Regions from separate parts of the Homo sapiens genome. Here all the other regions are reported to be linked to region 1. Evidence: microRNA targets listed by miRTarBase, many of them from high-throughput screens and not tested one by one. Region 1 holds a microRNA gene; each other region holds the end of a gene's coding sequence.
What was found. The annotated mature microRNA hsa-miR-4736 reads AGGCAGGUUAUCUGGGCUG and lies in region 1 at 2,250-2,268, opposite strand. An mRNA with a match to its seed (bases 2 to 7 or 8) in the 3' UTR can be bound and repressed. Matches are read on the target gene's strand: a 7mer-m8 pairs with bases 2 to 8, a 7mer-A1 pairs with bases 2 to 7 and ends in A, and an 8mer does both.

Region 1 (5,116 bases):
AAATGGGACAGAGAAAGGGGGAATGGGGCCTTTCACCCCCTTGAGTCTAAAGAGAAAGTGGTGAGGAGGGTTGCCTTGCAGGGCCAGCTGGCCAGAAATGGGGCGATACTCCTTTAAGAGACCACCGCTGCCTCTGACCTGGGTGGAGGGGAAGTGGCTGCCCCAGGCGATAAGAGGATAAGAATATCAAAGTTGTGCAGTAACCTGGGTTCCTGGACCCCCATTCTTCAGGGCTCCTCCCCTGAGAGCATCTTACCTCCTACTCCTGCTTATGATGCCTCCATAGCCCTCACTTCAGAGGCGTCCTGTCCCCACAAAAGAGAGTCACAGAATGGGACCCAGGAGCCCGGCTTCTGGGCCCAGCTATGCCATAGACCCCTCAGCATGTGACCTGTGGCGAGTCAGAGCTGAGGTTCCAAGGGACACACATGGCTCCAACAGTCTCCAATCTAGCCCTTCTCCTGTCCTGAGCAGGGTGAGGTGTCCCTGCTGCCTGTTGTCTTGTGACAACAGAGGCTGATTTTCTCTGTACAACCTCAATGCCTAAAGACCACCAATAGTTTTTATTTTTATTTATCTATTTTCTTTTTTTGAGAAGAGAGCTTAGGGCCCAGCTTCTCTGTCAACGGAGCTTCTGGGGTCAGGGGGTTTCTGGATAGTCTAGGCCCTCTGCTGGTTCCCATCCCGAGGCTGGGGCTAAAGAAGGATGGAATGAGGACCTGGACTTTCCCCAGCCCAGCGATGACTCCCGACTCTGCTGGGCCTCAAACCAGAAGAAATGGTACAGGGCCAGAGACAAAATCAAGGACAGGGGAAGGGGCAGAGTCTAAAATAAGAATACAGAGACAATAAGAAACTTTGTGAGAATGGCTAGGATACATGGAATGGGCCGTCCACCTGTGACTGGAACAAGGCTGCTGGACTCGAAGCCTGACGTAGGCTGCCACCACCCAGATGCGTGGCCTGTGTGACTGACCAGCAGGTGCCTGAGGGAAGAGCAGCCAGTGCCTGCATGGAAACACACATGCAGACACAGCGGCCCAGAGAGCCCAAAACATTCAGACACAGACACGCTGTCGCCGACACACCCCGCAGTCCTGTACACACACCTAGAGGAGGCCTATCTACACTCCTGGACACACCTGCGTCCTCCCCAAGAGACACAGGGAGGGTCACCTGGGAATCTGGGGCCAGTGCTTGACAGGGTGACTGGAAGGAGCTGGGGGTGGATTCAGAACATAAGTACCTCTGTGAGAGTGGCCTGGCTCCCACTCCTGCCTCCAAAGCCACCTGTTGCCTGAGTTCCCCAGGATGAGAAAAACCAAACCCTTGATGTCTTTGTGGAGAGAGGAGTTCAAGTTGATACTTCAAACTCCGCCTCCTTGGCGGCCGATCCAGGTTCAAGCAGGCTGTCACTGGGCAACCTTGGCTCACTTGGACTTGCTGTCAAAAGTCCCCCACGGCCCTCCCTGGTTCTGACATTCAGATTCTTGCTCAGAGGAAGTAGGGGGCGGGGGCGGCAGGAACAAGGTGGGAACAGCCCTTCATCAGGATAGAGGGATCTGGGCTTGGAATCCTGGAGGGCTCCAGGCTCATGGTCCCTCACTGCCACCCCCACCTTACCGACCTGGGGGACAACCATCTCTGTGTGCCAAGCTGAGGCTGTGGGTAGGCAAAGGTGAGCCGGCAGAGAAAAGGACACAGGACCTGTCCTTGGGCACTCCCAGCCTGATAGGCAGTGTGTACGAGTGTGTGTGTCAGTGCAAGTGAGTGTCTTGTACCCAAAGCAGGGGCAGAGCTTCAGGTCTGATGGGGACACTTGGTTCCTACTTCTAGTGAGCACTGAATCTGAGGGTGAAGTAGACACACACATCTACATTTAACATAGTAACGGCAACAGGCACAAGGCCATCCCAGGTGGCAGTTGCCAGGGCCCAAGGGGCTGGGATGTTGGATGCTGTAGTAGCAACCTTAGAGTCACAGGAGTCCCATCAGAGAAGGCTTCCTGGAGAATGTGAGTACAGGTGGAAGAGGGTTTAGAAGGAGAGATTGGGCAAGGAGGAGAAACAGGGAGAAAATTGTCTTTTGAAGGCCTAATGCCTGTAAGGAGAGCAGGCCCAGAGGGTGGAAGAAATGACACAAGCTCATTGTCCGCACATGAAGGCAGAAAAGAAAACCAACCCTTCCCTGCCATCTGCATGGGCCTGGGGCCCTCACTCACAGGCAGGCAAGCAGCCAGTGGGAGATGGCAGCCCAGATAACCTGCCTTACAAAGAGCCAACAAGAGAGAAGCCACAGACTTAACCACTCACAAACAGGAAGTCCAGAAGGCAGAGCAGACCCGCCCTCCAGTAAGCTACAGTTGGGGACAGGCCTGGCCACAAAGGAGGGAAACTGAGCCCCTAGCATTGCAAAATGGGGCTAAAGCAAATTGGAGTCAATAGTCCCAAATGTTGAGACCCTTCCCCATCTCCCTGGAGGGGCAGCCAAGGGAAGCAGGTGCCAAGAGAGGCAAGTGCCTTAAGAACCTAAGACAGCCCATGTCCCCTACAGAGATCATCTCAGCACCTCAGAAGATCTGTCTCATCTCAGAGCCTTGGGAGCACAAGGAGTGCTAAAGGGCCTCCAGGCAAGGAGGGCGGGCAAACTGGCTGCCCCTCAGCCCCTGCCTGCTCGTACCAGACTCCCCTAGGTTTAATTTCATACTCTCCTGCTCTACTCTGTCTGGCAAGGGGCAGCTCCAATGCACAGTGGCCCACACTAGGAGGTCACTTCGCACTGGGGCAGGGTTCTGGCTCAGATCTCCTGGGATCATAAGACCCAAGGACTTTTAAGCAGCAAGGTTAGGCAGCAACTGGTCCCGAGTCAGGAAACAGAGCTGCAAGCCCAGAGAGAGGCAGAAGGCAGCCTGAGGTCACAAAACAAGTTAGGGCCAAGTTGGGTTCTTTCCACAACATCTGGGAAAAGGCAGGACGGGCTGGGTGGAAAGGGGGTGTGGGTGTGAGGAAGGCTACCCTGACCACTGCTGTGGGAGTGGCCGTGAAACCAGAAGCTTTCTCCTCTGGGATCTTCTGGGGACACAAGTGGAGAGATGAAAGCTCCCTCTGGACTCTCTCCACACACAGGTGCTGGGTTTAACTTGCATAGCTGCACCTGCTCCAGTTCCAACTGCTGCAAATAAATTGTGTGTGTATGTGTGGCGGGGACAGGGAGGGGGTCCAAGAGCTGGTTTTCTGCCTGGAACCCACTACAATCCCTCATCAGCCCCACTCCCTATCCCAACATCAGGATCACCAAGCAGAGGATAAAATTAAGTGTCAAGAAACTAGGGGTCTAATCCTCACCCTGTGATTATTTATGGTACAATTCTGGGCCAGTCACTGAATCTGCCCCTAAACCCCAGCCTGTTTCTTCACCTATAAAAATGGGGAGGGAGTTGACCAAAAGACTTGTTTGTGCTCTAGGAAGTCCCCAAGAGCACAGGAGCCCAGAGACCTCGCAGGAGGAAGCAGCAGTATCTGTGTTCCAAATCCTGCCCAGCCCCCAGGCAGCCATGGTATCTTCTCAGCTGGCTCGAGGGCACACCTCCCAAAATGCAGAGAAGGCAGGGTGGCTAGGAATGGCTCTAGTAGAATTCTCCCCTTATCTTGTCTGGAAACAAGGGGCAAAGAGCTATCTATTTCCTCCTGCCAGCCTCCTGCCCCCAACAGGATTCCTCACATCCCAGGACCAGCTGGAAAAGGTGGTGAGAGTTGGAAAGAGACTGCTCAGTGAGGACTGCCCTGCGAACCAGCTTGGATTCATCCCGTTCACCTCCACGTTCTGCACTCGGGGCCGAGGGAAGGGAGGCAGCCCAGGCAGCTAGAGAACTTGATGAAACACACTCAATCTGAATCTCGCTTGATCGTCATGCTGACCCAGTGAGGTAAGTGATGGTATCCCCATCTCAGAGATGAGGAACCGGAAACTCAGCGAGGTTAAGTTTCACCTTCCTGAAAATCGGGCACCCCGTTTCTGTTCCCCAGAGGGAGCTCAATTCAAAGTCCCCAAAGAACAGGTCTTCTGTGAAGACCTGTTCTCCCCTCACAACCCCGTTGGAAAAAGCAGTGGGAGCGACCCAGGGCGGACCCTCTGGCCCAGGCTTGTGGGTTGGGGGGCAGAGGGGCCTAACTGGGTGGCCAGGTGGCCCGCAGAGTCTCTCCAGCAGCAGATGGCCTCCCCAGCCCTTTCCTTCAGAGCCTATTAAGCAGTCAAATGGGGGAGGGTTGGCCCCCAAGGCCAGGGACCCAGCAGCAGCAGCAGCTCACAGCACTGGAGCCGTTAAAAAGTGACTCAACCAGAAAGTGCGTTTGAAGTGACGCCCGCCAGGGCCCCAGAGCCCCAGAGCCCCAGAGCCAAACCTCAAAAAGACGAAGTGAGAGAGACAGGCCTGCGGGGGCTGGGCCGGGGGTGGAGACCCAGCCTGGAGCTGGCCTGGCCAAATAAGGGCAAATGCACTAGGGCGGGCCAATGGGGCAACAGCGGCTGGCTGCGTCATGGGGCTGCGGCTCTGGGGAGGGGGAGGTGAGAAGCCTGGGACAAAATGGGGGTGGGTGTCAGGGGTCCCGGCACCTCTTCGAGGGGTCCCAGGGTGGGTGAACACAGGAGGCATGGAAGCCCTCACCCCCAAGGAGCCTTTGTTACTAAGGTCAGTGGACCTGCAACCCCAGAGCCCCACCTGCAGGCTGGATGGGGTTCAAGGAAGAAAAAGGGAAACCTGGAGGACCCCCATGCCCCTGCCCCAGTTATGGGCCCTGGATCCCCATCTGCCATGGAGAACTGAAGGGAGGCCATAGGGACAGCAGCGTTGTGCAAGGGGAAAGGCTGAAGCACCAGTGCAGCTTCACCAGGCCACTGACTGTGGGCGAGAGATGTAATGGAAACTCAGTTTTCTCATCTGTGAAAGGGGAATAATATTGCCTCGTGGGATGGCACTGAGGGTCAAATGCAATAATAGAGGTGGCCCATTTTGAACCTGGAAATTGCCATAGGGATGTAATAGATGATTAGTGTAGAGGCACAAGGCCAAAGGCTGCTTCTTAGATTCTTGTTTCCAGGTGCTATAAACGATCCCTTT
Region 2 (5,116 bases), not on the chromosome of region 1:
ACATGGAACCTGTCTTTTGCGCATTGTTGTTCTTGTATATTAAACGTTGCTGGAATAAAAGGGGGCAATTAAATACAATCCAGGTAAGAATTACAAAATGTAAGTGCACCCTGGCTCTGAATGTCCTTGAAATCTGTTGAGATTCTGACTTTCATGCCTGTGTGGATAACTTTCCTGAAGTATCAGAAATCTACTGGGATCCCAAGCCTTTGTGTATCCTCTTTGGAAACTTACTTGTTAGCTGATGAAGGTGTTTCTTTGACTCAAATCTGGTTTATCTGCTAAGCTCCAGCAGCTTCCAGGAAGGGACTCGGCAATGATAGAAGAGAGATCACTTTTGCACACAGGCAGATGGCCACAGATGAGGCAGCTGAATCACTCCTGGACAGTCTGAGAGCTATAAAGAGTGATGTACTTAAGAGATTGCCAGTGTTACAAGGCTGGCACTTATTGCTGCTTGTAATCAAGAGCCAAGAGAACTAGAAACAATTCTCGGTTTGTAAGAATGACACCAAAGTGGCAACAGAATGAACTTAAAAACATCTAAGATAACTAAAAATGATAAAAACATCAGTTAGAGGCCTTAAATTTCAGACTTCTCTGGAAATGAATGCAGCAAGTAGTGAGGCTCCAAAGTGCTTCCAGGCATTATTAGGGTAGATGCCAAGTATTCATTTGTATTCAAGAGAGTACTTTTATTTTTGTTTGATGATAAAATCTAGGGACCTACGATTTGTACAATATCCCTCCTTGCTTCCTGCAACCTCCTTGAATTTCTCTAATTATGTTAGGAAGTGAAACTTATCCTCGCCAAAGAAGTAGATGAAACACATGTGGCAACATGGGGGCTGGGGAGAGGGGTATCAATACAGACCCAGAAAAAGAAAGAACTAGTTATAGTGTAAACTTTTATTTCTGAACGATTTTATTTCTGTCATTTCAGGTCCTTGCAGCTGAAGGAGAAATGAATGCTTCCAAATCCCTGAAGTCAGCCTCCATGGTGCTGGCTGAGTCTCCCATAGCTCTCCAGCTGCGCTACCTGCAGACCTTGAGCACGGTAGCCACCGAGAAGAATTCTACGATTGTGTTTCCTCTGCCCATGAATATACTAGAGGGCATTGGTGGCGTCAGCTATGATAACCACAAGAAGCTTCCAAATAAAGCCTGAGGTCCTCTTGCGGTAGTCAGCTATTGCATAGAGAGTGGTGTCTATTCCTATGGAGAAGCCAGTAGTTAGAAACGGTGAGAATTCCAACACTGTTCATGTAACAGTAACTCCATAGATGGAAGAGCATTGGCAGGAAAAAGCTCTAGAGGCTATACAGAGAAGAAAAAAAGAGCAAAAATGAGACCTGTATATTACTTTTATTTTTAGGACCATAATCAACTTTGTAATATTCTTATATAATTAATTAGTGGTGGTCTCCGACTTTATAGCAGGAACTTTCTGGTAGTATGAGAAGAAATCATTGGGTGACTATGACTAATGTTTCAGAATTACTTTTTAATTGTTTTAAAAAGCACTCCAGATAATTTATAGAGTAACATAGGCCTCATATTTACACTATATGTTCGCTTTATAATTCCGAAGTTGTTATTTGCTAAATCTCCAATGGTTGCAATCAAACCCCACAATGCTGAAAACAGAGATTGATTTTGATGTTAAGAACAAAAGAAGTATGGAAACTTCCAGGCTCAAACATGTCCCCCGTGCCACAAGGCAAACTGCGATGAGCTCACAGTCCAGGTCTCTTGCTGTGTGTCCTGCAGGGAGTGGCCAACTCTCCACCTTCCAGCACCATTATCAGAGGGTGGGAAAAGGCACATGAAAGTGGCCAGCTCCTGTCAATTTATTTGCTTACAAGGGAGAATGCTTGGAAAGGTTGCATTGGTTGAAACCACTGAGGAGCATCACCCTGGGGATTTCATGTTTTCACTCTGTTCTTAGTCCCAGGAGCCACAGGTAATCGAGAATGTTTGTGAACTCTATCCACATCCCCTCCCCCACCTGCCAAATAACCTGTTCAAAACAAAGAAGGCATAGAATATAAATGAATTTCAAAAGTTACTTTTTGGGAGGTTATTTCGTTGCCATGGTGCAATTTCTTTTTGGAATCAGTTTTGAGAAATGGGCTAGAATTTTTAAAAGTTATTATTTATGGATCGTCTTTGTGTTACACTGTGCTTAGCCCTTTAGGGATGCCACAAAATATCTTTATTTTACAGATAAGGAAGTGATATTATGAGGCTAAATAATGTGGCCAAGATTCCCCAGCTAGTGAGTGTTGGATTAAGATAGAAAACCATGTCTCAGTCCAAAGTCCTTGCTCCTAAACATCATCAAGTTTTATTTTGAGGAAGTGTGAGCCAAGGAGAGAGAGCACTCTAGTTCCTTTTTGCTGTCAACACCAAACTTTTAGGTTCTGGAAGTCCAGGCACCTACTGTAGTGTCCAGGACTACATGTGCATGCACACATATGTGTATGTGTGAGCACACCATTCCCACGTGCTTCATGCTCCTTTTCACACTCCACACATACCCTCCATATAACCTCCCCACCCTCACATCCTCCACCTCTGCTCCCATCCCCTCCCTGTCCTTATCACACACATCCTTTCGACACATAGGCATCAGCTACATAGTGCAAAATGGGGATCACGCTCTATCTTTGTTTCATAACCCTCCCCCAACCCCAAGAAACCGTATGATTTTTGGACAATCCACAGCTTCTGAATCTAGTGCTTGATCCTACTGACTTGATGACTCCAGCACTCATGTTTAACCCACTAAGGCTCATACATTTTCATTATTTACTAAGAACTTGCCTTTTAACAGGGATTGAGGACTTAGGGACATAGGCAGAAACCTAAGATAGGTCACCCACATCAGCCAGAATCTGAGTCCATGAAGTTATGCTATTTAGACACTTAACTGATAGCCCTTACATCTTCACAACAATGACACAGGTTCAACCCAGGCCAGGGCACCTCCGACACTGAGAGCCATGCGAGAAGGAGGCTCTGCTTATACAAGGACATCTTGGTGGCCCACTGCAAAAATCTCTTTTTAGCCTTGTTCCAGAAGTCTAGAGTTATTCCTTTTTTTTGGTTTCAGTGATTTGCATTAAAAATGCAAATCTTTCCTGGCAATGTACATCAAACTGTAAACTAGTGGTTCTTGCTGGAGGTAAACATTGTCTCACTCATTTAGAACCTCTTTTTTAAAATGTACAACCTGCTTGCATCCCTGTGGATTGGCAATGGGGGTATGAGAGCTGTATCAGAATATTTGAGGCTGTGGGAAATGCAGTTTGAAAACTTCCTGGGAAATTCAAATTATTCCACCTCCTCCAGTACAAAGCTTCATTAATTCTTTAGCATTATAATAAATCACTTACTGCCTTAGTTACTAAAGGCTGACTAAAGAAGGCTCCTATGAAGGTGAGTATATTTTGTGGCCAAGGGTCTGGAGAAGAATCAAGAAAGGGTCAGAGTTCTTCTGGAATGTGAATGCCAAGGCTGATATTCAAAACACAGTCATATGCACCTCTAGAATAAGACTAAAGGTTTTTTTTTTTTTTTTGCTTGTTTGTGTTTTTTTTTTTTTTTTGTCTGTTTGTTTTCTGGGGTGGTGGGGGAAGTTGGAAGGCAGGGTGAGGCCAGAAGGGGGAAAGAGAAGACAACCTCTCTTGTAGAGAGAAGTGTCCATTCTCCTTGTAATGCAGCTCCAGGGCTCACGGTCATCACCACCGATATTGAAGCCAGTGCAGATAATCCCAATCAGGTGGTTTTCCTGTTTTAACAACAGGAAAGGATTGGCATGACCATAGTGCTGAAGCAGGGTTCGAAGTCCCCAGTCATCACAGACATCGCCCCTTTGTTGCTGGGCCTGGAGGTAATACCAGTGATACTGGTGGTGCTATTTCAGTGAGTTCAGGCTGTAGTAACAAAATACCATAAATTGGGTAGCTTATAAACTGTCAATTGAAATTTATTTCTCATAGTTCTGGGGGCTGGGAAGTCCAAGAATAAAGGTGCAAGCCTATTTGGTGTCTGGTGAGAGACCAATTCATAGACTGGGCCCTCTCCCTGTGTCCTCAGTTGGTGGAAGGGGTGAGGGATCTCTCTGCCTCTATGTTATAAAGGCACTAATCTCAATCAGGACAGCTCTCACCTCATGACCTAATCACCTTCCAAAGGCCTCACTTCCTAATATCATCACATTGGGGGTTAGGATTTCAACGTATAAATTTTGGGGGTGACACAGACATTCAGACCATAGCAGATGCTTGCAGGTGGAATGCTAGTTGTGGTAAATGTTCATTCCAAGAGCTTCTGAGCTGCCAGAGGACAATGGAAAGGCACTGAGAGATTGAGGAATGGGGGAGATGCTGCAAAGGAGTCTGGACTGGGGGAAATGAAACCTGGAGAAGACTTTGAAGGTCATCTAATCCAGTGGTTTCTAGCCATTATTTTTAAAACCTCGAAATATTCTTTAAATAAAAATTTAAAGTGAAACCCAATAGTTATATGTCATATAATACACTTTTGGTCAATGAAAAACCACAGAAACAATAGTAGTCCCATAAGATTATAATACTGTAATTTTACTGTACCTTTTCTATGTTTAGATACACAAATACTATTGTGTTACAGTCACACATAGTAACATGCTGTACAGGTTTGTACCTAGGAGCAATAGGCTATGCCATATAGCTTGGGAGTGTAACAGGCAATACCATCTAGGTTTATGTAAGTACATTCTGTGATGTTTGCAGAACAGATTGCCTAATGATGTATTTTTCAGATTGTAACCTGATCATAAAGTGATACATGAATGTATATACAATTGACAAAAAGGGAGCTCCTCTGGCTGCAGTAGTGAAGGAGGGCATGGGGCTCCATCTGCTGATCTCTTTCTTCCCCTCACTCCCAATTCCCTTTCACAGTGGTCCCTTTTAAAAACCTCTTGGAATCATTGCATGTAACAGACTAGGAAACAGAGACCCAAAGAAGTGAAGTGGCCTGCCTAAGGTCACAGAATCAAGATATGACAGAGTTTTGATCAGTATGGCTCTCAAATCTAAAGCAATTGAGTGGCGGGGAAGACTAACGT
Region 3 (5,116 bases), not on the chromosome of region 1:
GAAAGCTGAAGAAAATCTTCCAAGAAGAAAAACGAACGGCCTTGCAGAAAAAAAATGAGCTGTTGTGAAAATGGGCATGGTCCCCTGAACTGACCCGGGCTCTAGCATTTGGGAAAGAGGGAAAGAAGTGCACAAAAGAGAAGGATAGTGACTGCGGAGGAAGCCAACGCCAGAGTCTCACCGGATGGATTTTTTAAAGGGAGGACGGGGAGAGGGTATAAATCCATACCACCAGTCCCTCTTCCTTTTTACCTACAACTTAGGCTATCCTATTGTTATTTCTTTTCTCTTGCCCAATGGCTCGTGGTGATCCAAAGAGTTTAAATCACGTGGATCAGCAACAAGTGGAGGAGGAAACATAGGGTAGCACGTGGCGACTTATCCTCAAGCCACCCAAAAGGACCTAGCCAGGGGCAGGAATGGGAGAGTGCTGCGAGAGGGCAGCAAGCTCGGCCAAAGACTGAGGCTCTGGGAACCGCAGGAAGAGGTCGGAGGCTGGACCCGGCGGGAAGGATGGCTGCGGAATGGCGAAGCCACGACCAGGACCGGGTGAAGGAGCCTGGCTTCTCGGGAAGGCAGCGGGAATCGCCGCAGGCTGCGGGAATGGCGGAGAAACGAGGACGCCCCCCAGGAAACTCACTTTCTTGCTCAGGTAGAAGAACATCGTGGGATCCCCGAGAGGGTCACGGCGGCCGCTAAGGCCCTCGACAAGTAACGGTTCTACGTCTCCAATCGGGAGTACCAGCAGCTCCGGAAAGCTCCCGTCGCCCTGGCAACCGCTGTTGCCCGGTCGCATCCGGGGCGCCGCGGGACACTTCCGGTGACGCCCTCGCACCGGGCACCGGCGTAGTGCGCCTGCGCGGACGTCGATGGGTTTGTGGGCGCAGGGCGCGAGGCGCGAGGCGGTAGCTGGGCTAGTCCTGTTCCCTGGCGTCTGGGCCTTTCTGCTCTCCGCAAGGAGCTGGGTCGCGACCTGTCACTGCCAGCCGTGCGCTCGCCCTCTGCGCCCCGTCTCGTGGTCACTGCCGCCCTCCCTCCCGCCACACCTGTGATGATCGCTATGGAGCCGCGCCTCAGGTGGCATTACTATAAACCTAAGAGGAGAGGCGCCCGTTCGAATAAGGGCAAATTATTTAGTATTTTGTAAGTTCCAAAGTTCCAACATTCTTGAAAGGGAAAAGCCATTTACTGTATTTGATAGGCTGGCGCCACTGGCCAGATGAAAGTGCAAATGTGCGTACTGAGATCTTACAACCCTTCTCTGTGTCTTTGGGGATTGGAGAACCTCTAGAGCAATTTAGGAATAGAAGATTTTGTTTATTCCGCTTGTTTTGATATTTTTTAACAGTTTAATTATTACCGCAACCCCGAGGGTCCTTTTAAAGGAATTTCTGTAAACGTTGGGTAATTACAGCGTACAATTGCTATTGGGGCATGGCCTCCCATTTTACAAATATTTGAGCGTTTGGTGTTTTCTCGTCTAGAGTCGACTGTTACATATTCTCTTCTTTTTCTTACCTTCTTTCTTCATTCTCCTTTGTCCTTTTGGAATGCTTGAGAGTTACAAAGCCTCAAAGTCTAAGGCATAGGGCAGAAATCCAAGTAGAACCACTCATGAAATTATTTGGTCTCACCTATGTTTTTATTTCTGGTTTTCCCTTTTACCATAATCTAGCATGTAATTTATGCATCAGTAGTTAATTTCCCCACTTGGAGTCTTTTCCCATCTCAGACAAAAATAAAATAAAAATCCTCCAATCCTTTGACCTGGGTGATTTGTCTCACCCAGCACAATCTATTATAGAATTGACAATAGTCCCTAGTGCCTTTCCTAGCAAATCTAAACTCCATCCAAAATCAGATCTTCCCTCAATCCTAAATGTTTTTACTAGGGAGCCCCCACCTCAAGTAAGCCAATATGCTTTCTGCAGGGCAACATTCCATCCGGCTCTGCTTCCCAAGCCACTTTATATATGGTCCTACCCTCTTAACAGGCCAGTTGTGCCTAGCCAAACCAGCACAAATCAGTCTCCATGAGGAATTCTTTCCAAACTTAACCCAATCCCATTCAGATAATGTTTGCTTTCCATTGTTTGTGTGTCTGTTTAAGATACATTGGCCCCTGTCCATAGGCTCCCTATACTGGACGCATGAGACAAATTAGTATTATCTAACCCAGGAGTTTCCAATAAACTGGTCAAGACATAATTAGTTGAAGCTAGTTACTGATGGTGACACCTGAAAACTCACCTCTCTTTATCTTTCCCTTCTTGCACATGAACTCTCATTTATTCCTTCTATACCACCATTTCTCTGTGGTATATTAATATGTATTACTGATTTTGGGCTCAAAAAAGTCTGGAAAATACTACTGTAGCTCTATGTCATACCCTTTCAAAATTTTTGAAAAGTAAGAGATGCTTTATATATTTCCTTGGTATATTTAGTTTTTGTTCCTTCCTTAAAGTTTATATTTTATATTTACATCTGTAGGATATATTTGCTTCTCAGGAGCTTATATTAATGTAAAGCTCATCATTATTTTATCCAAATTTAGATAATTTTATATTGAAGCCTTTCTTTTGAACCTGAACTTACACTTTTAGCCTCAGGAGTGTGAGATTAAACTATAGGAGGAGAATCAAACTTCTGTCTTTTGATAAGAAACTGTTGAATATCAAAATAACTGTTAATTCAGTATAATTTAAAGAAATATCTTTAATAGACAAAATTGATGAGTCATCAAAAATAGACATGATAATATGTAAAGGTAATAACTTTTATTATATTAAAGACAATGCAAACGAAAAACAGAATTGAGCAGTGCAAAATTTAAAGGACTGTTTTGTTCTCAAAGTTGCAAGTTTCAAAGCCAAAAGAATTATATGTATCAAATATATAAGTAAAAAAAAGTTAGACTTTCAAGCCTGTAATCCCAGCACTTTGGGAGGCTGAGGCAGGTGGATCACTAACATTAAAAAGACAACATTAGATTTTGTCGATTTATAGCAATTTTATAAATATATAACTTTGTCACTTGGATCCTGAAGCAAAATAATAAAGTGAATTTGGGATTTTTGTACTTGGTAAAAAGTTTAACACCCTAAATTCACAACTAGTGCTCTTTAGTAGTACATTTCTTTCAAAGACCAGAATGAATTAAAAATGGCAATGTAATGTTCACTTGATCTGTGTTAACTATTTTTAGATATGTGTATTACAATCTATTGATCACATCTTCAATAATACTCCAACAAAATAAGCAAAAAACAAAAAGTGTTAAACAGTTCAAAATTACATTCATCTCAGTTATATGAAGTTGTATGTGTAAATACCTTGTACAATTTGCACTCTCAGTAATAAGATTGATTTATATTATAAATACTATCAAAAGAAACTAGACCTAAAGTTTCCATTGTGAATATGGTTATCTAATATAAACATTTAAAAATTAAATGGCTCAATTAGTAGATAAAGAAACACTAAACTTTTCATTCTATTTCCTACCAATCATTTCACAGTCATAACTTAGAGACACTAAAGTTTGCTCTTAATAAGTATCTGCATATGTATTTCCTTGGAAGAATCATGCTGATTCTGCAGAAGATCTTCATACAATTTATCCAGTAATATTCAAGCATTAATACAGATAATGGCAAATTATTAGCAGGAACATTGGCAATAACAGGTGTGCAAAAGAATGCATGAGTATTAAGTACACCAAGCTGTCCACATTTTCAGGTGAGAAATTGGAGCAATTTAACGATGTATTTGTCCATATTCATTTATTTTCAACTTCTCCAAAATGTCATCAAGTGGCAAGTTGTTAAGGCCAACACCATTTATTTTTACACATTAGAAAATATAAACACACTTTCAAACACTTCACAAGATAAAATAATTATGTCCTATGAGAAGTGAAAAAAAAGAGCAAAACTGTTTTCTCACCAAAAGTTGAATTCAGTCTAAAAGTCAAAAATCCTGTTCTTCAGAGAGCACAATAAAAGTAGACCCCTGCAGTGGTCTTCAGATGTTTTTGTTCATATAAAATGTAATTGGAGTAGCATCTTAGTGTGAGGGATGGGGGAAGCAGTGTTTATGAAGTATTGATTAAAGGGATAGTTGGATTGTCCCTTTGTTTGGCTATCTCAAGATTCTGCTGTTCTAACAAATGCACCTTAGTAGATCTAGGGTAAATGAGAAGTATGCCTTTCTTGTGTGAAGTTAGGAGAATGGTGATATGGAAATGAGAGACGGGAAAAGAAAATGCCAGCTGATTCCAAGTAGTGTCTTAAGCAAGTGAAGGATTTGGAAATTGATTCTTTCCAATTATCTGTACCTCCCTTAAAAGTCTCTACATACGCCTAGATTGTACCTACCACAATCTAAATTCCACTCCTCTGGGGTACATAGGAACAGAGTTGTTAACTTGAACTGTTCTGAGAAACTTTTCCCTAGTTACTCCTTTGAAGAAAGAACTGATTTTGAAAGTTTCTGAGATTGTATCATGTTACATTTTAAAATCTGCTTTTTGACCACTTGGCTAGTCAAAGGGTACAACTGTGTGTAATCTGAGATATCACACCCCATTAATCAGCTGACTTGCTTTGTACATGTTCAGATTCTGAACTAAGAAAGCCATATTAAGGAGTCATTAGCATAAATGTTCCATCTGTTATGTAAGAGCATCATTAGGAGCATATACAGTTATGGAAAAGCACTAGGGGACAAAATAGGCAGCTTTTACATGTAAATATTGAATGGGTGAAACAGTCTATTAAACCATTAGAAAAGAACTCTAAATTTTTTAAAGTTGTATATTACCACTGCTCATATTAAAACCTAACAAATAAGTCACTTGCCTGTGGAATGTCTTAAAGTGTTTGGCTCGATCGTAGTACCTTGGTTGGCTCCAGGCAGAAGGAGAAAACCTTCCAGAAAGGATATGTTTAGTGTTCAGTCTTTGAAGATACGAGCTGACCTTGTCCTGGAATGCCAGTGTAGCTTCACATCCACAAGCATCTTCAGTGGAAACAAGTCTTCGTGCTTCCTCAGTGGCTGAAGACAATGACAGTACACAAATATACTATCTAGGAATAGCTATATAGGAATCATA
Region 4 (3,000 bases), not on the chromosome of region 1:
TGCCTGTAGTCCCAGCTACTCAGGAGGCTGAGGCAGGAGAATCTCTTGAACCCAGAAGGTGGAGGTTGCAGTGAGCTGAGATTGCACCACTGCACTCCAGCCTGGGCGACAGAGCGAGATTCCATCTCAAAAACAAAAACAAAAACAAAACAAAGAAGGCCGGGCACTGTGGCTCATGCCTGTAATCCCAGCACTTTGGGAGGCCGAGATGGGTGATCATCTGAGGTCAGGAGTTTGAGACCCACCTGACCAACATGGTGAAACCCAGTCTCTACTGAAAATACAAAAAGCCAGGCGCAGTGGCTCACGCCTATAATCCCAGCACTTTGGGAGGCTGAGGCAGGCAGATCACCTGAGGTCAGGAGTTCGAGACTAGCCTGGCCAACATCGCGAAACCTCGTCTCTATTAAAACTACAAACATTAGCCAGGCGTGGTGGCGTGCACCTGTAGTCCCAGCTACTTGGGAGGCTGAGGCAGGAGAACCGCTTGAACCCCGGAGGCGGAGGTTGCAGTGAGCCGAGATCGCGCCATTGCACTCCAGCCTGGGCAATAAGATCAAAACTCTGTCTCAAAAAAATAAACAAAAATAAAAATACAAAAAATTAGCCAGGCATGGTGGCATGCAACTACTTGGGAGGCTGAGGTAGAATAGCTTGAACCTGGGAGGCAGACGTTGCAGTGAACAGAGATCGTGCCACTGCATGCCAGCCAAACAAATAAGGTCATGCTGATGGCATCCAGGGCTTAGGATATGGACATGTCTTCTTGGGAACCACCATTCAGTTCCCAATAATAATTATCAAACCAATGGGGAAAAAGAGCATACTGAAAAGCTTACGAATTCCAAGTGTGGGGAAACAGTAACTGAACATCCATTATAGGCCAGGCACTGCACTGGGCACTCAAAATAGCATTCTCATTTATTCGTCACCACTGCCCAGTGAGCCAGGTTCTGCTACACTTATTTTTTATTTTTTTTAGACGGAGTCTCGCTCTGTAACCCAGGCTGGGGTCCAGCGGCACGATCTCTTGGCTCACTGCAAGCTCCGCCTCCCGGGTTCACGCCATTCTCCTGCCTCAGCCTCCCGAGTAGCTGGGACTACAGGCGCCCGCCACCACGCCCGGCTAATTTTTTTGTATTTTTAATAGAGACAGGGTTTCGCCATGTTAGCCAGGATGGTCTCGATCTCCTTGACCTTGTGATCCGCCCGCCTCGGCCTCCCAGTGCTGGGATTACAGGCGTGAGCCACCGCGCCTGGCCTGCTAACCTTATTTTATATACAAGGAACCAGGCAGAGATGTGAGACAACTTGCAAGCAGGGGCTTCCAGTCCAAGTACCCACTATAGGGTGACAGGCATAGCATTAATACTGTGGGTAGGCAGGAAACCATTTAGCTCAGCTCCAGCAGCTGCCTAATGTGACCTTGATCAAGTCACTAACTACTGTGGGTTCATTTCCTCATCAATAAGATGAGGAACTACTACTAAACCTGAGTTGTAAGGTGTAAGTAATGTATATGGATCCCTCTTTGCACAGTTCCTGGCAGTAGGAGGTGTTCAATAGTTTCCTTCCAGGACCCAGCACTGCCACAAATATGTCATGAAAATTATAGGTCATTTAAAGTTCATAGGATCTTGTGACGCACAAACAAAATACTGAACGTGAAAATGTCCTGTAAACCAAATATACTGCTTTATGAACAAGAGGGATTTAAGAATTCAATTTAGGGCTGGGCACGGTGGCTCACGCCTGTAATCCCAGTACTTTAGGAGGCAGAGATGGGCAGATCACGAGGTCAGGAAATCTGAGACCATCCTGGCTAACACGGTGAAACCCCATCTCTACTAAAAAATACAAAAAATTGGCCGGGCATGGTGGCGGGTGCCTGTAGTCCCAGCTACTTGGGAGGCTGAGGCAGGAGAATGGCAGGAACCTGGGAGGTGGAGCTTGCAGTGAGCCGAGATCGCGCCAGTACACTCCAACCTGGGCGACAGAGTGAGACTCCGTCTAAAAAAAAACAAAAAGATTTTGAATTTAGGCGGGGCGTGGTGGCTCATGCCTGTAATCCTAGCACATTTTGGGAGGCCAAGGCAGGCGAATCACTTGAGGCCAGGAGTTCGAGACCAGCCTGGCCAACATGGTAAAACCCATCTCTACTGAGAATACAAAAATTAGCTGAGTGTGGTGGCACACGCCTGTAATCCCAGCTACTTGGAAGGCTGAGGCAGAACTGCTTGAACCTGGGCAGCGGAGGATGCAACGAACTGAGATCACGCTACTGCACTCCAGCCTGGGAGACAGAGTGAGACTCCATCTCAAAAGCACAAAATAAAAATAACTCAATTTAAACACTAACAACTGATGTATCCTGAAAGCATCAGGACACATGGGAAATGTATTACTGCCACAACCCACAAATTCTCTCCTACAATAATGAGACGACAAATCTGGCTCCAAAGATCCTTTACTGAGATCCACTTGAAACACTTCGGTCCTTAACTTGTTAACTGAGTTGACAGGCTGATGGCTGATCTAGGTAAAGGTTTCACGGTAGCAAAAACACTTCCTGCCTATAATACATCAAAACAGGTTCCTGAATGTGTGTGAATATCATCAAGGTCTCTGTCCCATCTTCTTCAGGGTTCGATTAAGCTAGAAGAGAAAGAAAAGCAAAGTTACATACGGGGATTTCCCCAACCCCTTTCCTACAGTGTGTATGATCACTAGGTCAGATTCCCAGCTGCCCCTCTGAAGCCAAGAAAGGAAGTTTCTGATGTGGGTGTCCACTATGTGTGTGCAAAGCCGTGACATTCATATGGCCCTGCACAGTTCACGCGGATTATTCTTTTATCTGCCCTTCACACTCAACAAACCCATACACAACACTGCTCTATCCATCTGACAGAAAAAGGATTCAGACTGGCCAGACGTTTCAAGGTTACTAGTTCAGTTAGGGGAAGAATGAGAAGCTTTGAACAGGATCCTTGTTAGAAGACA
Region 5 (5,116 bases), not on the chromosome of region 1:
GCTAGCTGGTTCCCCTGGGACTCCTTGTAGTTCTCAGGACCCACTGCCTAGGTTTTTGGTCTATATGTACTTCCACCCATGCACAAAGCCCCACTCCCTAGGTCAATGGCCATCCACGAGTTATCTTACTTGGGATGCTGATCCCACCCTTCAAATGCAGAAGTCCCTATGCCTCTGAACTACGGTATGGGAACTCCATCCCGTATAATACCTGGGGTCACTGCTAGCTCACAGTGTGAAAATGAGAAAACAGGTGCTTCCCTCTGAGCAAACACAGGCCCATGCCAGATGCCCAGATGGGTGCAATGGAGCAGAAGCTGAATTTCAGTTCATTTGCTCCCTCAGCTGCTCTTTTACCACACGCAGCCTGCACAACCATTTGTAGTGCCAAGTGCCTTGTGCCTTATGCCTGTGCCTTATGTCCTTCTCTGTCATATGCAAAGCCCTCTGACAGGACTTTAAATTTTGGGGATCTAAGGAGGGATTGTCACTATCTGAAGGTCCTCACTGCTGCTACAATCAGGACAGCTTTAGGGTTGCTTAAAGAATCATGTTTTCTAAGTATTCCTGTTTAATAGCTGAGTTACCAAGCAGGAAGCTAAACTGAGTACGAATTGAGAGTGATCCTATAAGGCAATAGGGAGGACATCTATGAGCTCGACAAGCAGGGCAGTGCTACTTCCTTTTAAGGAGGACTTGAAGCACAGGGCAGTTTGCTTGAAAAGATAAGCCAAATGGACTGGACAACCAGATAGAGGGACATTTACTTTCTTAGTGATCAGGAGAGGGAAGGAGGGAAAGAAAAAGAAGGGGAGGAATGAGGAAAGAAGAGGAGAAGAAAAGGAGGACAGGCAAGAAGTGAGGGTCAGGGTGCCCAGCATATTTGTGCCAGGATCTCAAGGAGAGTTGGAGGAACAAGAGTAACTTAACTTAGAAGGAGATAAAATTCGAGGGATTAATCATGGAATCCTGGATTGTGACATCTCAAGATAAATCCTTAAAGACAAGTTAGATAACAATTATTGGGTCAGTATTTAATTGAAAACCTAAGACTCCTCAAACCAATGGGAAGATTGTTTGCAGCCCTCTAAATGCCTAGAGCACAGGAGATGCTGGCAGTGAGTCCCCACTATGTATAGGTGAAAGTGGAGTTATTGGGATACAAAAAAACTAGGGGTCAACTAGGAACAAGGAATGCAGGTAGCTTGAACCTGAATGTTGCCTCAAGTCTATAATCAAAATCCATTCCAAATATGCCCCCGCCCCCATTCCCTCCCATTGCTCTTTTCTGGGCTAAGAAGTTAATTGCTCAGGGCCTCCCAAATGGGGGGTAGCTGGAGCAGACATGAGGGACTCAGCAAAGAACAAGGCCCTGCTACCCCAGATTTCCCCAGCATGAGGCAAATCTAAGGCATTCCCCCGTGCCATTTGCTTAACTCCTCTGGGAACTTGCAGGACTGGAGTTCCCCAGCAGCACCTCTCAGTTAACATTTTCTCACGCTTCTCTCCTGCACAGATGGGGAAAGCCAGCACACAGGACAGTAAACCTCCTGGGACTTCAAGCTATGAAATTGTGATCTAGGCTGCTGGGCTGAATTCTCCCTCTGGAAACTGAGTTACAACCACCAATACTGGCAGGTTCCCTGGATCCAGATCTTCTCTGCCCAACTCTTACTGGGAGATTGCAAACTGCCACATCTCAGCCTGTAAGCAAAGCAGGAAACCTTCTGCTGGGCATAGCTTGTGCCTAAATGGACAAATGGATGCATACCCTTCCTGAAATGACTCCCTTCTGAATGAATGACAAAGCAGGTTACCTAGTATAGTTTTCCCAAACTTCTTCCCATCATAGCACATGTAGAAAATAATATTTTTATGGCACACTGGGATAAACAAGCAAGATTGCTCACTTCTGGAAGCTGCATATGACTAGAGGCCTCTTGTGACTGGAGGTAACAACCCTGCCCAGTAACTGTGGGAGAAGGGGATCAATATTTTGCACACCTGTAATAGGCCATGGCACACCAGCCAAGATGCTCTGCTCACAGTCAGTATGTGTGAAGATCCCTGGTGCGTGGCCTTCACCACGCATCTTGAGCAAATTAGGAAAATGTACCCTTCGCTTGAGGCAGATGCAGCCCTTCCCCCGAGTGCATGGCTTGGAGAGCAGAATGTGGGCTGCATATAAGCACACTCATCCCTTTGTCTGGGAATCTTTGTGCAGGGCATAACAGGCTTAGTAAGTCCAAACACAGATGACAGTGCTGTGTGGGTCTCTGTCAGAGTTGTGGCTCTCAGCCATGTAGACACACTCTCCAAATGGAGTGTTGGAAAATGTTCTTTCTGCAGGGTCTAGAGACTGCTGGGACACTTTTCTTGGAGTGCTACTTCAGAAGCCTTATAGGATTTTCTTTCTGGCCAAGATTTCCTTCTGTATCACTCCAAGCAGCCTCAGCAGAAGAAGCAGCCATGCCCAGTATTCCCACTCTCCAAAAGGAACTGACCAGCTTATATTTCTCACACTTCTGGGGAACTGGGTATAATCCAACCATCAAAATAGAAGACCTTGCAAGAAGCAGAGTCATTCTCCAGAAGGAACTTGGGAGATGATGGTGCAGATGATGAAACTGGGTTCATCCCAGTTCCAAAGACTCAGAGAACTAGAGTTTAAGCTGAGGCAGAGTGCCGCCACCCTGGCATGCCCCACAAACAGATCACCAGCCAGCTTACACAGGCATTAACTCTCCTCAATGAGGAAGAATCATTCACAACTGAGCAAGACATTCATATGATCATTTAAGGAAGTGTTTCCCTTATGTGTTAGCAAGTATAATCGGCTAACTCCTAAATCCCAATGAATAGTCCTAGGCTGGACAGCAATGGGCTGCAATTAGGCAGATAAAGACATCAGTCCCAGTAAATGAATCCATAGACTCATCTAGCACCAACTACCATTAGCACTATGTTAGGAGCTGCAAGGCCCCAAAGTAGAAGATGTGCATAATGTCTGCTCTTGTGTAGCTCAGGAGACAATTCCAGCACAGACACTACAGTTAACGCTGAACTGCAGCTGCAAGTAATAGCATGAACAGTCAGAAAAATACCTTATGAGGGGGCAGGGCTGAAGCTGGGCCTTGAAGGATGGATGAAATTTGGATAGAGAATGAGGAAGACAGAGGGCCTCCAAGTGAGAGAAGCATGAAAAATGAGCAGGGGCCTGGATCAGTGGGGTGTATTCAGAGCACCTCTCCAGATGCACCATGCATGCTCACAGTCCCTTGCCTATGTGTGGCAGAGTGTCCCAGCCAGATGTGTGCCCTCACCCCATGTCCATTTACATGTCCTTCAATGCCCACCTCAAAAGGTACCTCTTCTGTAAAGCTTTCCCTGGTATCAGGAATCAAAATTAATCAGGGATCTTTTCACACTGCTGTTTTTTCCTCTTTGGTCCTTCTATCACTAAAACTCATCTCATTCAGCCTTACAGCATAACTAATTATTTGTTTTCCTCACTACATTGTACATGTGGGAATTACAGATAAACGGAAGCCGGCTGGGGTGGTGGCTCACGCCTGTAATCCCAACACTTTGGGAGGCCAAGGCAGGCGGATCACCTGAGGTCAGGAGTTCGAGATTAGTCTGGCCAACATGGTGAAACCCCATCTCTACTAAAAATACGAAATTAGCCAGGTGTGGTGGCACACATCTGTAGTCCCAGCTACTCTGGAGGCTGAGACAGGAGAATCGCTTGAACCCAGGAAGTGGAGGTTGCAGTGAGCTGAGATCACACCACTGCACTCCAGCCTGGGAGAGACAGAGTGAGACTCCATCTCGAAAAAAAAAAAAAGATAGAAGCCAATAAGCATGGTGCAATCAAATTCTGGCAAGCATTAAATATCAGGATGCAGCTGGGCACGGTGGCTCACGCCTGTAATCCCAGCACTTTGGGAGGCCAAGGTGGGCGGATCACTTGAGGTCAGGAATTTGAGAGGATCCTGGCCAGCATGGCAAAACCCCATCTGTACTTAAAATACAAAAAAATTAGCTGGGCGTGGTGGTGCACACCTGTAATCCCAGCTACTTGGGAGGCTGAGGTGGGAGAATTGCTTGAACCTGGGAGGTGGAGGTTGCAGTGAGCTGAGATCCTGCCACTGCACTCCAGGCTGGGCAACAGAGTGAGACCATGTCTCAAAAAATAAAAATAAAATAAAATAATATCAGGATGCATACATCAGAGGCTGTTCCTAGTGTAAAGGCACTTTGGAGGGAGAAGACTTTCAGAGTTAGGCAGACCAACTAAGAGGTCAGCTGAAGCACCTAACCAGTTGTAAGGAGGTGAAAGACAGCACCCCAAGAAGAGACGTGCAGGAAGGAGGAAAGAGGCTTGGTCATAAAGGATGGAGGAATTCCAAAGTGACACTGAACAGGCTGCGTTTATCCTAAAATAAAACCACTCCTCACTCTGTGGATGCGTTGAAGACTCATTCCCAAACATCTTTATTCTCTAACTTGCCCTCTTCCTCTTCCTAATATGCTCACTCAAGTAAAATTACTAGTGTCCTAATGCCCCTATGCATATTGTCAAAAATAAAAATCAGAAGCAGGTTAGATCTGTTAGGTCTTCCAGAAGAGCAAACCTGGGATGAAGCCAGAGCCCAGGAATTCTGAAGGTAGCCTTTGGACTCAGGACACCCTACTCTTGTCTCTCCTCTCAGTTTCTCTGCTATGAATCTCCTGATTCATGAACACGTTATCTGTTCACCCTTCTCTCTAGGTCTTAGTTCTTAGATTTTCCTTCTGTAAAATGCATGTGATCTTATTTTCCCCTCCACAACTTTCCAGATGAACTAGACTGTGACCAAGAGGTCTATAAAATCAAAGCATCATGGAACAGGATCTTGTATCAGACCAAAGTGTGCCAGTTTTTAAAAATGTGCATCAAAATGGAAGTCTCAGAGACAGAGCCCTCTGGTGGAAAGTTCTAGTAGGTTAGGACAGTCCTGCCTGCAGACACCTTGGGCTTTACTGAGGGACTCAACTGAGAAAATGAGGAATGTTGCAGCTCATGATTCTTAGAAGAAGAAAGTGAAGCTTGTTTAAAATATGATTTAAAAAA
Region 6 (3,000 bases), not on the chromosome of region 1:
GAGTGCAAGTGCCACGGCGTGTCTGGCTCCTGCACCACCAAAACCTGCTGGACCACGCTGCCCAAGTTCCGAGAGGTGGGCCACCTGCTGAAGGAGAAGTACAACGCGGCCGTGCAGGTGGAGGTGGTGCGGGCCAGCCGTCTGCGGCAGCCCACCTTCCTGCGCATCAAACAGCTGCGCAGCTATCAGAAGCCCATGGAGACAGACCTGGTGTACATTGAGAAGTCGCCCAACTACTGCGAGGAGGACGCGGCCACGGGCAGCGTGGGCACGCAGGGCCGTCTCTGCAACCGCACGTCGCCCGGCGCGGACGGCTGTGACACCATGTGCTGCGGCCGAGGCTACAACACCCACCAGTACACCAAGGTGTGGCAGTGCAACTGCAAATTCCACTGGTGCTGCTTCGTCAAGTGCAACACCTGCAGCGAGCGCACCGAGGTCTTCACCTGCAAGTGAGGCCAGGCCCGGAGGCGGCCGCGGGCACCCTGGAACCCGGCGGCATTTTGCACATCCACTCCTCACCTTCCCTGCCTTGGTGCTGCCAGCAGCAGACATAGACGGGTGCAGAAGCGGGGAGCTCCAGGTGCAGGAGGGCACCGGCCGGGGCCCACGCCCTCTGCCCGCCTCCCTGGGGCTCCTTCCTGCCACCTCCTCCCATCACCTCCTGCGGCAGAACAGCACCCGTGACCCACCCAGAGAGCAAGGCCAGGGGTCTTGGTGCTCCCCGACGGGGCCCGGCAAGTTCTCTTTCTTCTCTCTGGGAAAATGAACGTCCAGGACACACCTGTATCCCAGAGAGCAAAGTGATGAGGAGACTGAGCGTCCCCAGCCCCACCTGGCGGCATGGACACAGAAAAGCTACGCCGGCTGGCCTCTCCAGACCAGTTCCCAGGCTGGGTCTGCCGCTGGGCCCTGGGGCGGTGGGGACAGATGTTGACACAAATTATTTATGTTTTCTTAGTATCAGAAGAGGATTCTCGGCACTAACACATAGCCAGTCCTAACTCCGTACTCTGTGTCAGCCCATCCCCTAGACACCCTCTGTTTCCTTTCCCGGCCCCACCTGGCCGGCCCTCTGCCCCTGCAGAGCTGAGGCAGCCTGGGGTTGATGGGGACCACGCGGTGCCTGCAGGTCCTAGAAGTGAGCTGGGCAGGGGCTCTTCAGACCACACAGCCCTGACCGGGCCTTGGAGGAGAGCCATGGACAGGCTCCTCCATGCCGTCTTTCCTTCTTTTGAAAATCCTATCAATGGCTGGGCGCGGTGGCTCACACCTGTAATCCCAGCACTTTGGGAGACCGAGGCAGGTGGATCACCTGAGGTCAGGAGTTCGAGACCAGCCTGGCCAACGTGGTGAAACCCTGTCTCTACTAAAAATACAAAAATTAGCTGGGCGTGGTGGCGTGCACCTGTAATCCCAGCTACTCAGGAGGCTGAGACAGGACACTTGCTTGAACCCGGGAGGTGGAGGTTGCAATGAGCCAAGATTGTGCCACTGTATTCCAACTTGGGTGACAGAGCACGACTCTGTCTCAAAAAAAGAAAAGAAAATAATATCAAGCAAATCAAAATATCACCCACGTCAGGTTCCAGGAGTCCTTCGTTCCCTCCCTCATCCTGTCACCCTCCCGGCCTGGCACCTCCAGTTTACAGAGACCCCCTTCCCCCTGGAGCCAGCCTGACCCCTGGGACAGTGCTGCCGCGGGGGTCAGGCAGGTGGTGAGTGGTCAGGGATGTTTGTCCCACTTGACAGATGGGAACTCTGAGGCCCAGAGTGGCACAAGGACCTACCAGAGACCCTGCAGCTGTGACTGGAGGCTTCCACCTTTCTCCTGCCCAGCCTGGGGCTCTGGACCTGGGAGAACACATCAGGATGCCCGGGGTGGCAGTAGGTAGCTCCCATGCCTTGAGGCACTTGGCTGCTCCCTCCACCCCCTGACAGCCTCATTGGGGCCTGCACTCCCCTCGGTGCCTTTGAGGCTTCGCCTAGCCCTGTCCTGGTCCTTTTACCCTGACCCCAGTGCTGAGAAAATCTGGATCCAGAGCTGGACATGTCCTTTCTGGATGCTCCCACCCCTGTCTCTGAGGAGCATGAGTGACAGAGGGAGGAACTTGTCCGAGGCCAGAGAGGATGGTCTGCAGCTGGCTCCTGGTGCACCCCCACTGCCCACGGCCTGGCCCCCATTTAGGGTGTGTTCTCTTGGAAGCCCGTAGGAATGTGTTCTTGAGCAGCCGACAAGCCAAGGGCCTGGGCTCAGCCTGGGGCAAGTGGGTCCCTCCTGGGCTCTGGCCCTGTGGTCCAGCCCATGTGCCTCTAACCATGCCTGGACGCTCTGAGTCTCCGGGCCACCGTGAATGCCCCACCCTCAGCCTGGCCCCATCCCCTTACCTTCCCCAAGTCCCAGAACACACCTGAGTCCATAGGCCCGGCAGCCTCTGCAAGGAACCTGGTTAACTTATGTTGTTATATAGCGTCGAAATGTCTATAGTGTCTTTAAATTATTGTGACCTACACTGGGTACCGGAGAGGGGGATGGCTGCGGCCCCCATCCCTCATCCCCCATCCCATCCCATCCCTCATCTCATCCCTCATCCCATCCCCCATCCCATCCCTGACCCCATCCCCCATCCCATCCCTCATCCCTATTCCCCATACCCACCCCCCATCCCATCCCCCATCTCCCGAACCAGGCTCCTCCTGCTTCAACAGACCCTTGGGGCCCCTGATGCCACCGAGACACTCGCACTGTCCCTTGGCTGCCGGGCACCCCACTGAGCCCCTGCCCACCCCAAAGTCTGCCAGCAACAGGCCCTTTGCCTGGGTGAGACGGGGGTCAGGGTGGCCCAGATGGGGGTGATGGCGACCAAGGTGCTGCGTCCCCACCCTTCTGACGGCAGCCTCCCCTGGAGGGGAGTGCTCGGCCCAATAAAAGCTGGAATCGGAAAAGTGAGTGTGTGTGGAATCCCCATGCGATGTACCTGCAGCTGCGGCCCCACCGGT

Region 2: the mRNA of STOML3 is a reported target of hsa-miR-4736. Seed matches in the 3' UTR shown: 8mer at 2,007-2,014.
Region 3: miRTarBase lists MATN3 as a target of hsa-miR-4736. Seed matches in the 3' UTR shown: 7mer-m8 at 2,956-2,962.
Region 4: the mRNA of EIF3L is a reported target of hsa-miR-4736. Seed matches in the 3' UTR shown: 7mer-A1 at 1,927-1,933.
Region 5: the mRNA of CD84 is a reported target of hsa-miR-4736. Seed matches in the 3' UTR shown: 7mer-A1 at 4,145-4,151.
Region 6: the mRNA of WNT7B is a reported target of hsa-miR-4736. Seed matches in the 3' UTR shown: 7mer-A1 at 641-647.

What each region holds. Positions count from the first base shown.
Region 1 is chr17:58,333,755-58,338,870 of GRCh38, forward strand. MIR4736 (microRNA 4736) reads right to left here and starts at 2,268; the gene lies at 2,222-2,268. It overlaps TSPOAP1-AS1 (TSPOAP1, SUPT4H1 and RNF43 antisense RNA 1), which reads left to right. Exons shown (of 5, transcript NR_038410.1): 3 at 3,694-3,925. RefSeq lists enhancers at 1,568-2,068, 1,654-1,873, 1,944-1,993, 2,014-2,193, 2,214-2,755 and 5 more and a silencer at 4,534-4,828.
Region 2 is chr13:38,962,877-38,967,992 of GRCh38, reverse strand. It overlaps STOML3 (stomatin like 3), which reads left to right. Exons shown (of 7, transcript NM_145286.3): 7 at 944-2,068. The coding sequence ends at 1,168. Among named protein-coding and RNA genes, the nearest start is that of STOML3, 25 kb to the left of the region's middle. RefSeq lists an enhancer at 3,109-3,278.
Region 3 is chr2:19,989,352-19,994,467 of GRCh38, forward strand. It overlaps MATN3 (matrilin 3), which reads right to left. Exons shown (of 8, transcript NM_002381.5): 7 at 4,948-5,058; 8 at 2,701-3,815. The coding sequence ends at 3,760. WDR35-DT (WDR35 divergent transcript) reads left to right here and starts at 853. Exons shown (of 3, transcript NR_110235.1): 1 at 853-1,143. It overlaps WDR35 (WD repeat domain 35), which reads right to left and starts at 754. Exons shown (of 27, transcript NM_020779.4): 1 at 641-754. The coding sequence starts at 664. RefSeq lists enhancers at 485-534, 551-1,054, 685-734 and a silencer at 895-974.
Region 4 is chr22:37,888,081-37,891,080 of GRCh38, reverse strand. EIF3L (eukaryotic translation initiation factor 3 subunit L) reads right to left here. Exons shown (of 13, transcript NM_016091.4): 13 at 1,674-2,655. The coding sequence ends at 2,617. Among named protein-coding and RNA genes, the nearest start is that of MICALL1, 17 kb to the left of the region's middle.
Region 5 is chr1:160,544,722-160,549,837 of GRCh38, reverse strand. It overlaps CD84 (CD84 molecule), which reads left to right. Exons shown (of 7, transcript NM_003874.4): 7 at 1,517-5,116. The coding sequence ends at 1,582. The region is part of intron 1 of CD84-AS1 (CD84 antisense RNA 1); the gene reads right to left. Among named protein-coding and RNA genes, the nearest start is that of CD84-AS1, 10 kb to the right of the region's middle. RefSeq lists enhancers at 1-200, 1,298-1,567 and a silencer at 351-400.
Region 6 is chr22:45,920,312-45,923,311 of GRCh38, reverse strand. It overlaps WNT7B (Wnt family member 7B), which reads left to right. Exons shown (of 4, transcript NM_058238.3): 4 at 1-2,946. The coding sequence ends at 456. Among named protein-coding and RNA genes, the nearest start is that of WNT7B, 55 kb to the left of the region's middle.